Linked DNA regions of Homo sapiens. The protein of the gene in region 1 purifies or fractionates together with the protein of each later gene. This does not show direct contact. Each region holds a gene or a part of one and is shown on either strand. Other genes may lie near its edges.

Evidence for each region. The genes of interacting proteins can lie anywhere in the genome.
Region 2: the proteins of RNF139 (region 1) and ATF6 purify together in Homo sapiens (affinity purification with mass spectrometry, with the first as the bait; one large-scale study listed by BioGRID). This does not show direct contact.

Annotation. Positions count from the first base shown.
Region 1 is NC_000008.11:124,480,360-124,485,935, forward strand, and holds part of RNF139 (E3 ubiquitin-protein ligase RNF139), read left to right. Parts: intron 1-2,900; exon of another isoform or gene 2,901-3,048; intron 3,049-5,471; coding exon 5,472-5,576. UniProt on the Homo sapiens protein: E3-ubiquitin ligase; acts as a negative regulator of cell proliferation through mechanisms involving G2/M arrest and cell death.
Region 2 is NC_000001.11:161,790,320-161,794,217, forward strand, and holds part of ATF6 (cyclic AMP-dependent transcription factor ATF-6 alpha), read left to right. Parts: intron 1-1,088; coding exon 1,089-1,218; intron 1,219-1,804; coding exon 1,805-2,008; intron 2,009-3,898.

The sequences.
Region 1 (5,576 bases):
CACCACTGCACTCCAGCCTGGGCAACAGAGCGAGACTCCATCACTAAAAAAAAAAAAAAAAAAAAAAGGAAGTCAAATCTTGGGTAAGGGGGAACTACTGTACTTACATTTACCCATTTATTATAAAGGCAATTACAAAGGACACAGATGAATTAACCCGATGGAAGGAGATGTACAAGGTGAGACAAAGAAGGAGAGAAGAGGAGAAGGGGCGTGGAGCTTCAGTGTTCAGCTATCTGAGAGCTCACAGAACTCAGTCCTTTTGGGCTTCTATGGAAGTTCATTAAATAGGCAAGATTGATTAGATCACTAGTCATTGGTTTATGGACTCAAGTTTCAGCTTCTTTCTTCCCAGAAGTGGCGGCTGGGGGTAGGAATCAAAGTTATAACCCTTAATCACTGGGCTGATTCCCCTGGCTACCTAGCCCCCATCCTGAAGCTATCTAGGGGCCCCCAGGCACCAGTCATCTGATTATTGTACAAAACAGTCATCACTCCAGAGATTCCAAGGATTTTAGAAGCTATGTCAGAAAATGGGACAAAGACCAAATATTAATATTTTTTTTATGATATCACAGATGGGAAAGACAAACTAGAAAAACTTGCTTTAACTCTTCATTTAACACCTCTCTGTAGGGTTTGGCTTTTTAAAATCCATGTTCATATATTTTTGATAAAAGCATACTTATTATAAGTTTAGTTTAAAAGCAAAAGTTTAATTTTGTGTTAATACTTAGAATACCAGGTTTTTTTTCAACCTAAAATGAGAATCCAATAGAAATGTTTTCTTTATAATTTATCAAGTATACCAACAGATTAACAACATTTCAAGACACTTTGTTGTAAACTTCATTGCGGAAGGCTCCCTTGGGAGTAAGGTAGTAGTAACATTTATTTCTGTGCTTTTCCATATTTATTCTGTCAGGTATTGAAATGTTTTTCCACAGGTTGCTTTTTGTTTTAGAGGTATTTCGGGTACTTGGAGAATTGTAAATATTATGTTTTGTACCCTGATTTTTAGTCATAAGTTTCCAAAAGAGGGTAAGGGTATGAATAGACTTTACACATAAAAGAGTGAAACACTTTGTTATGTAACATGTATAGTAAGTTTTTATTTTTTCTTTTGTTTTTATTTGCCTGTTTTTGGTAATCCAAATTGAAAAGGCCTGAACTCTTTCATGAGTTGAGTTCATATATAGTTTCAAAGTTCCTGAATTGATTTGGATACCTGCCTCTTTTTGGCTACCTTGAAAACTCTAGTGAACTCTCTTAATCACTGGAGAATTGGACTGAGATCTCTGAGTTGTGATTTCAGTAAATTCTGTTCTCAAAATTTTTTATAAAGCAGCATTTATATACAGTCTTGATTACTTGTGCAAGTCACTTCCAAATCCTAATGAGAAACTGTCTCTGGACTTTTATATTTTCTTAGACCTACAGTTTAAATACCAAGAAAGGCTTTCATGTCTAATGTAAAAATGCAGTGAAACTTTGATATTATTCTGCAAAGGCCATGAGAAAGATGATTACTTTGGAGACTTGTTACTTAGGATATTGGTTTTTAAAATGAGAGCAGATTCTTCCCAAATTCCATAGGTAGGAACGTGACTATAAAAGGAAAATCTATGAACCCCATATACCTACAAACTTTGGGTAGGAATTAAAACAAACATATACTATTCTTGAAATGTTAACTCACTATTACATCTTGGGGGGTGTGATTTTAATCAGGATAGAGTATTGTCAGATTGTTACTTGCTGGGATACATCCAAATTTTGAGGTTGTAGTCTTACTACATTATTTGTCTATCTGATGCCTTCCCCTTTTTTTCTTTGATACATTTGCATAAAGCAAAATGGCACTTTTTCACTAGAAATGTTTCTAAAACCCAAATAATTTCTTCATTTGTGTGTAGTAAAAACAAGCTTCAGGAAAAAAGTTATTAGAATTTTAAAAATTAGTTATAAAATTATGGCAAAGCTCATGAATAGTTACTGAAGATTAATTTACTACTTTGTGAATAGCAAGTTGACAAAAATAATTTACAGTTCCTGCTTGACTTTCTCCCCTCTAAGTGGCATAAAGTAGAACTAGAGTTATTTTGTTTTGGTTTTGACCCAACTTAGAAGATTTGTTTTAAAGTTTCTGAAGTTTTGTCTCAGGAAAATAAGGTGGTTTTCCATGTAGAGAATGTAAGATTACATATGGCATCTGGTAGGCTGAATTAATTCCATTTTCTTGTTACCTTCCATGGAAGAAGTTTCTAATAAAAAAATCTTTTCAGGGCCGAGCGCAGTGGCTCACGCCTATAATCGCAGTAGTTTGGGAGGCCGAAGCGGGTGGATCACCTGAGGTCAGGAGTTTGAGACCAGCCTGACCAACGTGGAAAAACCCTGTCTCTACTGAAAATGCAAAATTAGCTGGGAGTGGTGGTACATACCTGTAATCCCAGCTTCTTGGGAGGCTGAAGCAGAAGAATCGCTTGAACCTGGGAGGCAGAGGTTGCAGTGAGCCAAGATCACGCCATTGCACTCCAGCCTGGGCAACAGGAGCGAAACTCCATTAAAAAAAATATAAAAAAAAATATATATATATATAATATATATATATTATTTAAATATATATATATTTAAAAATATATATATTAAAAATATATATATATATTTAAATATATATATATTTAAAAATATATCTATTAAAAATATATATATATTATTTAAATATATATATATTTAAAAATATATATATTAAAAATATATATATTTAAAAGAGCCTGTTCTGAGCTCACAACTCTTTGGGGGATTATTAGTGGCCCATTTTCTTGGGGAATCAGGTGGTTTGTATTTAGAGGTTTATATGTCTTCTACTTTATTGTGTCCTTTTGTTTTCCTTTTCACAGATGACTTGACATTTTGGCACAGAATACATTTTAAATCCCTGGACAGAGTCATCACTTAAATGAACTAGCCCTTGCTTATATGTGCAGTGGATTGTGAAATGCGTCTACTGTAATAATATGCAATGTCTTGATTACCTGCTGAAATAAGGTGGATAGATGGATTTTTATTTTATTTAATATTTATTTATTTATGTATTTTGAGACAGGGTCTCACTGTCACCCAGGCTGGCATGCAGTGGTGCGATCTCAGCTAACTGCAATGCCTCCCGGGTTCAAGCGATTCTCCCACCTCAACCCCCTGAGTAGCTGGGAGTACAGGCACGTGCTACCACCCTGGCATATTTTTATATTTTTGGTAGAGACAGGGTTTCACCATGTTGACATGGTCTTGAACTCCTGGCCTCAAGTGATCCACCCGCCTCAGCCTCCCAAAGTGCTGGGATTACCATTGTGAGCCACCACACCCAGCCAAGATGGATTTTTAATTTGGAGTTTGTCACTTTTTCTGTACTCCAGGGTATGGTTTCTCATTGTCTGAAACATAGATTTTATTTTTCAAGCAGGCTATATTTTGTGGTTGCCTTTAAAAACATCCAGATGTGACAGACATTTCCTAATGAATACTAATTGTACTTATTTTGTACAAAATATTGTAGAATCCATAGATGGACAGGGTAGGATCTTTGCTTTCTGTTATAGATACATGTGTAATAGGGTAGATTATACTTAGATAACTGCAGACTACAATATCAGGTGATATATGAGTGTTAAATGTTTCACTAAGTTCTGCAGGTATGCTGAAAGAACAGTTTCTATCAAAGAAAGTAGGTTTCTAGGATAGGTAGGATTTGAATAGTCAGGGATTGGGAGGTTGGGGACATCATTCCAAGCAAAAAGAATGTAAACACTGCTGTAGCTATAGTGGAGAAAGGAATGTGTTTGGGGAATCCAAGTCTGGAGCACTGATGTGTGTGTGTTAGGAGGAATATTACTGTAAAGCAAATTGGGTTCTTGAATGCCAGGAGCAAGAATGTAGATTTTAGTTGATAGTAATTTCAGAGCCGCTGAAGTATTTTGAGCAGGGAATGAAGAAAGGCAATTTGGTGATGGCTTGTAAATGGATTTGGACAAGATGAGGGTTTTTTGAGACAGACTGATTGATTGGTGTCACAGAAAAGGGAGATAGAGGTGTTAGAAGAATTTGGCAACTAATTGGCAAAGTTTGAGCATGTGGGGCTGGGTTGGGAGTATCTCTAAAAGAACAATAATGGTACCTTCAACTGAAATAGCAAATCACAAGGAAAAGCTGATTCTAGTTTAAGGCAAGTCGAGTTTCAGAACTTTGGAGATTTGCAGTTGTAGGAGTGAAAGTAGGTGAGTATTCAGATGTCATTCCCATTGTTGAAACCTTGGATAATAATGTGTTTATTGTAATCCTACTTAAAATATGCATTTCTGTCAGAGTACAAAGAAAGATGGTGTCTATGGAGTGGGGGAAGGAGAATTACCATTTTCTAAAAACATGTCTTGGTTTTCTGAGTGTTACTTTTGTAATGTGAAGAACAATAAAAAGAGTTGACTATTTTAAGAAACAGATTCAGCATTATACAGGAAAAAGGGAACTTGGAAGATGTTTCTAAGTCCGAAGGAAACTAGGAGGAAAAAAAATGGAATTTTGGACCCTTTGGAGAATGCTCAGAGTTAAGGAGTAGGAAATAAGAGCTGGCATGAGTTCACAGTTTGAAGAAAAGGAGGAATTAAGTGGAAGTATAAAACTTGAACTTGATTTCCTAAAGAATCCTTTAAAAAAAAATCTAAAACTTGGCTGGGTGCGGTGGCTCACGCCTGTAATCCCAGCACTTTGGGAGGCAAGGCGGGCGGATCACTTGACGTCAGGAGTTAGAGACCAGTCTGGCCAACATGGTGAAACCCCGTCTCTACTAAAAATACAAAAATTAGCTGGGCATGGTGGCAGGTGCCTGTAATCCCAGTTACTTGGGAGGCTGGGGCAGGAGAATTGCTTGAGCCTGGGAGGCAGAATTTGCAGTGAGCTGAGATTGCACCAGTGCACTCCATCCTGGGCAACAGAGTGAGACTCTTGTCTCAGTCAGTCAATAATAAATGAATCTAAAACTTAATAGGAATAAATGTTTTCCATTTGGGTTATTTTTAACCCAATTTTTAAAATTAATTTTAATGATTATGAAATGATAAAAGACATATTCTTTTGAGTTTTAAAACTTGTTAAAATGTATGTACCACTACAAATTCATCTTGAAAATAATTTAGTAATTTGGTGCCTTGGACAGCTACAGTGTTACTTGAAATACTTTGGAAATTAGAAAGTAAGGAATGAAATTTTAAAGAATAATTTAGTATGTTTGGTCTGTTCTCCTGAACTCTGACTTTACAAAACCTTTATTACCCTTTAAGCCTTAGTTGTCTTGAGGCTTAATGTTCATAACTGAAAATATTCATATTTCCTAATTAAAGGAAGAATATCATAACTCTTAGTGGGGAAACATTCTTACAAATACTTCATTCAAATGACTTTTTCTTTCTTTCTTTTAGGTGTATTTGCATCCAGTATTGTTCTGATCTTGTCACAACGATCACTTTTCAAGTTTTACACGTACAGCTCAGCCTTTCTGTTAGCTGCAACTTCAGTGTTGGTGA
Region 2 (3,898 bases), on another chromosome or scaffold:
TTATGAAGTAGAGATTATGTCTATTGCGTGATCATGCATGCCATCTTTTCTGTCTGAATTGAATTGCTACTTCTATGTTGTTTCTTTATTCTAACAAAATGAGATAGATTCACTGAATATTAAAAGACTTTGGGAAAATGCGAATGTTATCTTTATGTATCTCAATCATTATGAATTCACCTACTAAATTAAAGAAAATAGCACTGTTGGCTGGGTGGGGTGGTTCACGCCTGTAATCCCAGCACGTTGGGAGGCTGAGGTGGGTGGACCATATGAGGTCAGGAGTTTTAGAGCAGCCCAGCCAACATGGTGAAACCCCCTCTCTACCAGAAATACAAAAACTTAGCAAGGCGTGGTGGCACACATCTGTGGTTGTAGCTACTCGGGAGGCTAAGGCAGGAGAATTGCTTGAACTGGGGAGGCAGAGGTTGCAGTGAGCTGAGATTGCGTCACTGCACTCCAGCTTGGGCAACAGAGTGAGACTCTGTCTCAACAACAACAACAACAACAACAACAACAACAACAACAAAGCACTGCTCCATTCATGCATCTTTCTTTTACAACATTTGGAACAAAGGCAGTATTACAAAATAGAAAACAGAAAAGAATACAAATAAAATTATTTTGCTTTTGATATTCTTTTAAGACCAAATAAGAGAGATTATGGAGAAAGGATATTGGCATTTTAACTGCAACCTTATACTGATACTGAATGTTTGTATGACTACGAACCAAGTTTTATATGTGTGTGTGTGTGTGTGTGTCTCTGTGTGTGTGTGTGTGTCTCTGTGTGTGTGTGTGTGTGTGTGTGTGTAGTTTGTAGGAAGAAATGTAGCAACAGATCAATGATTCATATCTTTAACAGGATGGCATAGACTTACTCTGCATTTTGAGTTATTTTTCCTTTGGTATAGATGGATCATGCTGATAGTCACTTATTACTTAATATATATATACAGTTTCTAATATACCTTTCCTTTGAAGTTACCCTGAAGTGTTTTTCTGTTTATATGTGGGTCTCCTCCTTTTCTATGCAATTTGCTGCTTAAGGATTATACTCATTAATTTTTGTTTTTATTATGCTACAGGAGGAGTTGGATTTGTCTTCTAGTTCTCAGATGTCTCCCCTTTCCTTATATGGTGAAAACTCTAATAGTCTCTCTTCAGCGGAGCCACTGAAGGAAGATAAGCCTGTCACTGGTCCTAGGAACAAGACTGGTATTACTCTATCTCCTAACTTCTGTTATTTCTATTTCAGATTGAGCTTAGGTTCCATTTCTTAAAAGAAAATGCTGGATTAAATTTATGTTTATTAGGCTGGCTTGCTGTTTTTTAATTGGTGGACCTATATTGTTTGTTGTGAGTGATTACCGTGGAGAGGAAAGGGGAGAAATAATCTTTGGTTGTCTCTGTCTTTACAGGTGAAAGATACTTTAAAATAGACTCAGACCCCACCATCTTCAGGAGAGATTTCAAAGTTTCAGTTAAAGATAACTGAATGGAGCTATGACATTTGTTACCTCATTAATCTCTGGGTGTTATCCCGTGATTTTAGCAATTCTCCTTTACCAGTTAGTGTGTCCCATTCCCAAAACTGCAGCTTGGTTAGAAAAGGAGGTAACAGTTTAAGTACTTTTCTTCAGTTCATTCAGGTATATGTACTGTAGCTATGCTTAAACTCCAGTTAAAGATTGTTAATCGAAGTTAAGATAATGTGTAGAGAAAGGTGTGTGATAGAATCTGTTTTTTAGGGCTTGCGTAATTGCTTTCACATTGACTTGTGGTTTGTCTGGTTTTTCTCCAGAAAATGGACTGACTCCAAAGAAAAAAATTCAGGTGAATTCAAAACCTTCAATTCAGCCCAAGCCTTTATTGCTTCCAGCAGCACCCAAGACTCAAACAAACTCCAGTGTTCCAGCAAAAACCATCATTATTCAGACAGTACCAACGCTTATGCCATTGGCAAAGCAGCAACCAATTATCAGTTTACAACCTGCACCCACTAAAGGTACCTGAGCAGAATTTAAGGCTGTGTAAATTTATTTGGAGGGCAGTAAGGGTTGTGTCATATGATTTGTTTTAATTCAGGTTATAATTTCTGAGCACGTGCTGTTTGTCAGGAATGTCTTTGGTTATGAGGACGTTGCAGAGATGACTAATGTGTGGTTCCTGTCATAACAAGGGATATAGCTCTCCAGACCAGTTACATCTGATGGTTATTTTGAAAATCTGGGACACTTTCTTGGTGCCATTTTATTCTGGTGGATAAAATACAGGAACACAAATTTTAAGCTAGTTGAAGGCAGAGTTCAGGTCAGCCAGATTTTTGTGGCTGTGAACTTTTTTTGTTTTGAAGGAATATTTAAAATAATAGGGTCCATTTCAGGTGTGTTATAGCAATAGAATCACACCCTTAATCTCTGAGGAGGCTGCATGGTTTAGTAAACAGTATATTGACCTGGTCATGAGGAGACCTGAACTCTGCTTTCAACTAGCTAAGAATTTGTGTGTTTCGTATTTTATCCACCAGATGGCCTCATACACTTGTGATTCTATGAGAGGTTTATGTCATTATTGAAAGAAGTTCAAGTCTGAGGATTTGGTACTATTCAGATATGGGAGTCATTTCCGTATGGAGATCTCTTAGGTAGATTAGTCATCATTGTACTCATACTGATATCTGTATACACTGGGTACAAGAAAACTTTTGCAGCATTCTTATCTCTGGATTTAGTTTGTTGGCACCAGATATGACTAGGCGATAATGGGGTATGGGTTGTAAATAAACACCAATGTTACATTTGTACTGTATCTCCAATTGTGAATAGGTAGCTCGTTTTTTGGAGCATAGTTTTAATGAGGGTAAATTTGATAAATTTAATTTCCAGATACTCTTTTAGCTTTGTTCTATTACATGGTCATAGACAATATGACATTGATAAAAAGAAGACCTAGATGAGAGAATGGATGAATCAGTGAAAATTCATCCATCAGTCCCACCAAAAATAAACAGACAAACAAACAAACAAAAACCAGTTTGAAATGCCTGCTCTCTCAGTACAAAGTCAGAACTGCTGCCTTTTCCATCTGAAAAGTAGCATTCCTATAGAATAGGTATTCTTGTGATTTATAAATGTGTATTAAGGGTTCATGAACTCCTTGAAACAAAATGCAGGATTTAATGTATGTTCATATGTGGATTATTCTAGGGATAGTCTCCAAAACTTTCATTAGGATCTCATAAGGATCTGTGCCTTCCCAAAGGCTAAGAATTTAAACTAATGAAGAACCTCATTGTAGTTCCCATAAGCTATTAAAATACGTCTATACAAAAAGTCTGACATTAATATGACTAGCGTATAAAGCAGGGGTATTCCTAAGAATTTGCCCTTAGCAGATCATTGACTATGTTTGAGTGATGGAAGATCTTACCTATAATAAGAAGACAAACTGTTCTTTTCTGAGCAGTTTATCAGTTCCAGAAACCTGAATTACACATTATTTGAAACTTCAATACTTTCCTGTCATCTGAAGACTATAGTTATTTTTTTGTGAGCATGTGCTAATATGAGGAACTGCACCTTGCCTGTTTTTTTTCTTTTATTTGAGACAGAGTCTCGCTGTGTTGCCAGGCTGGAGTGCAGTGGTGTGATCTTGGCTCACTGCAACTTCCACCTCCTGGGTTCAAGTGATTCTCCTGCTTCAGCCTCCAGAGTAGCTGGGACTACAGGCACGTGCCACCATGCCCAGCTAATTTTTATATTTTTAGTAGAGACAGGGTTTCACCATGTCGGCCAGGATGGTCTTGATCTCTTGACCTCGTAATCGCCTGCCTCGGCCTCCCAAAGTGCTGGGATTACAGGTGTGAGCCACCGCGCCTGGTGCCTTGTCTGTTTTT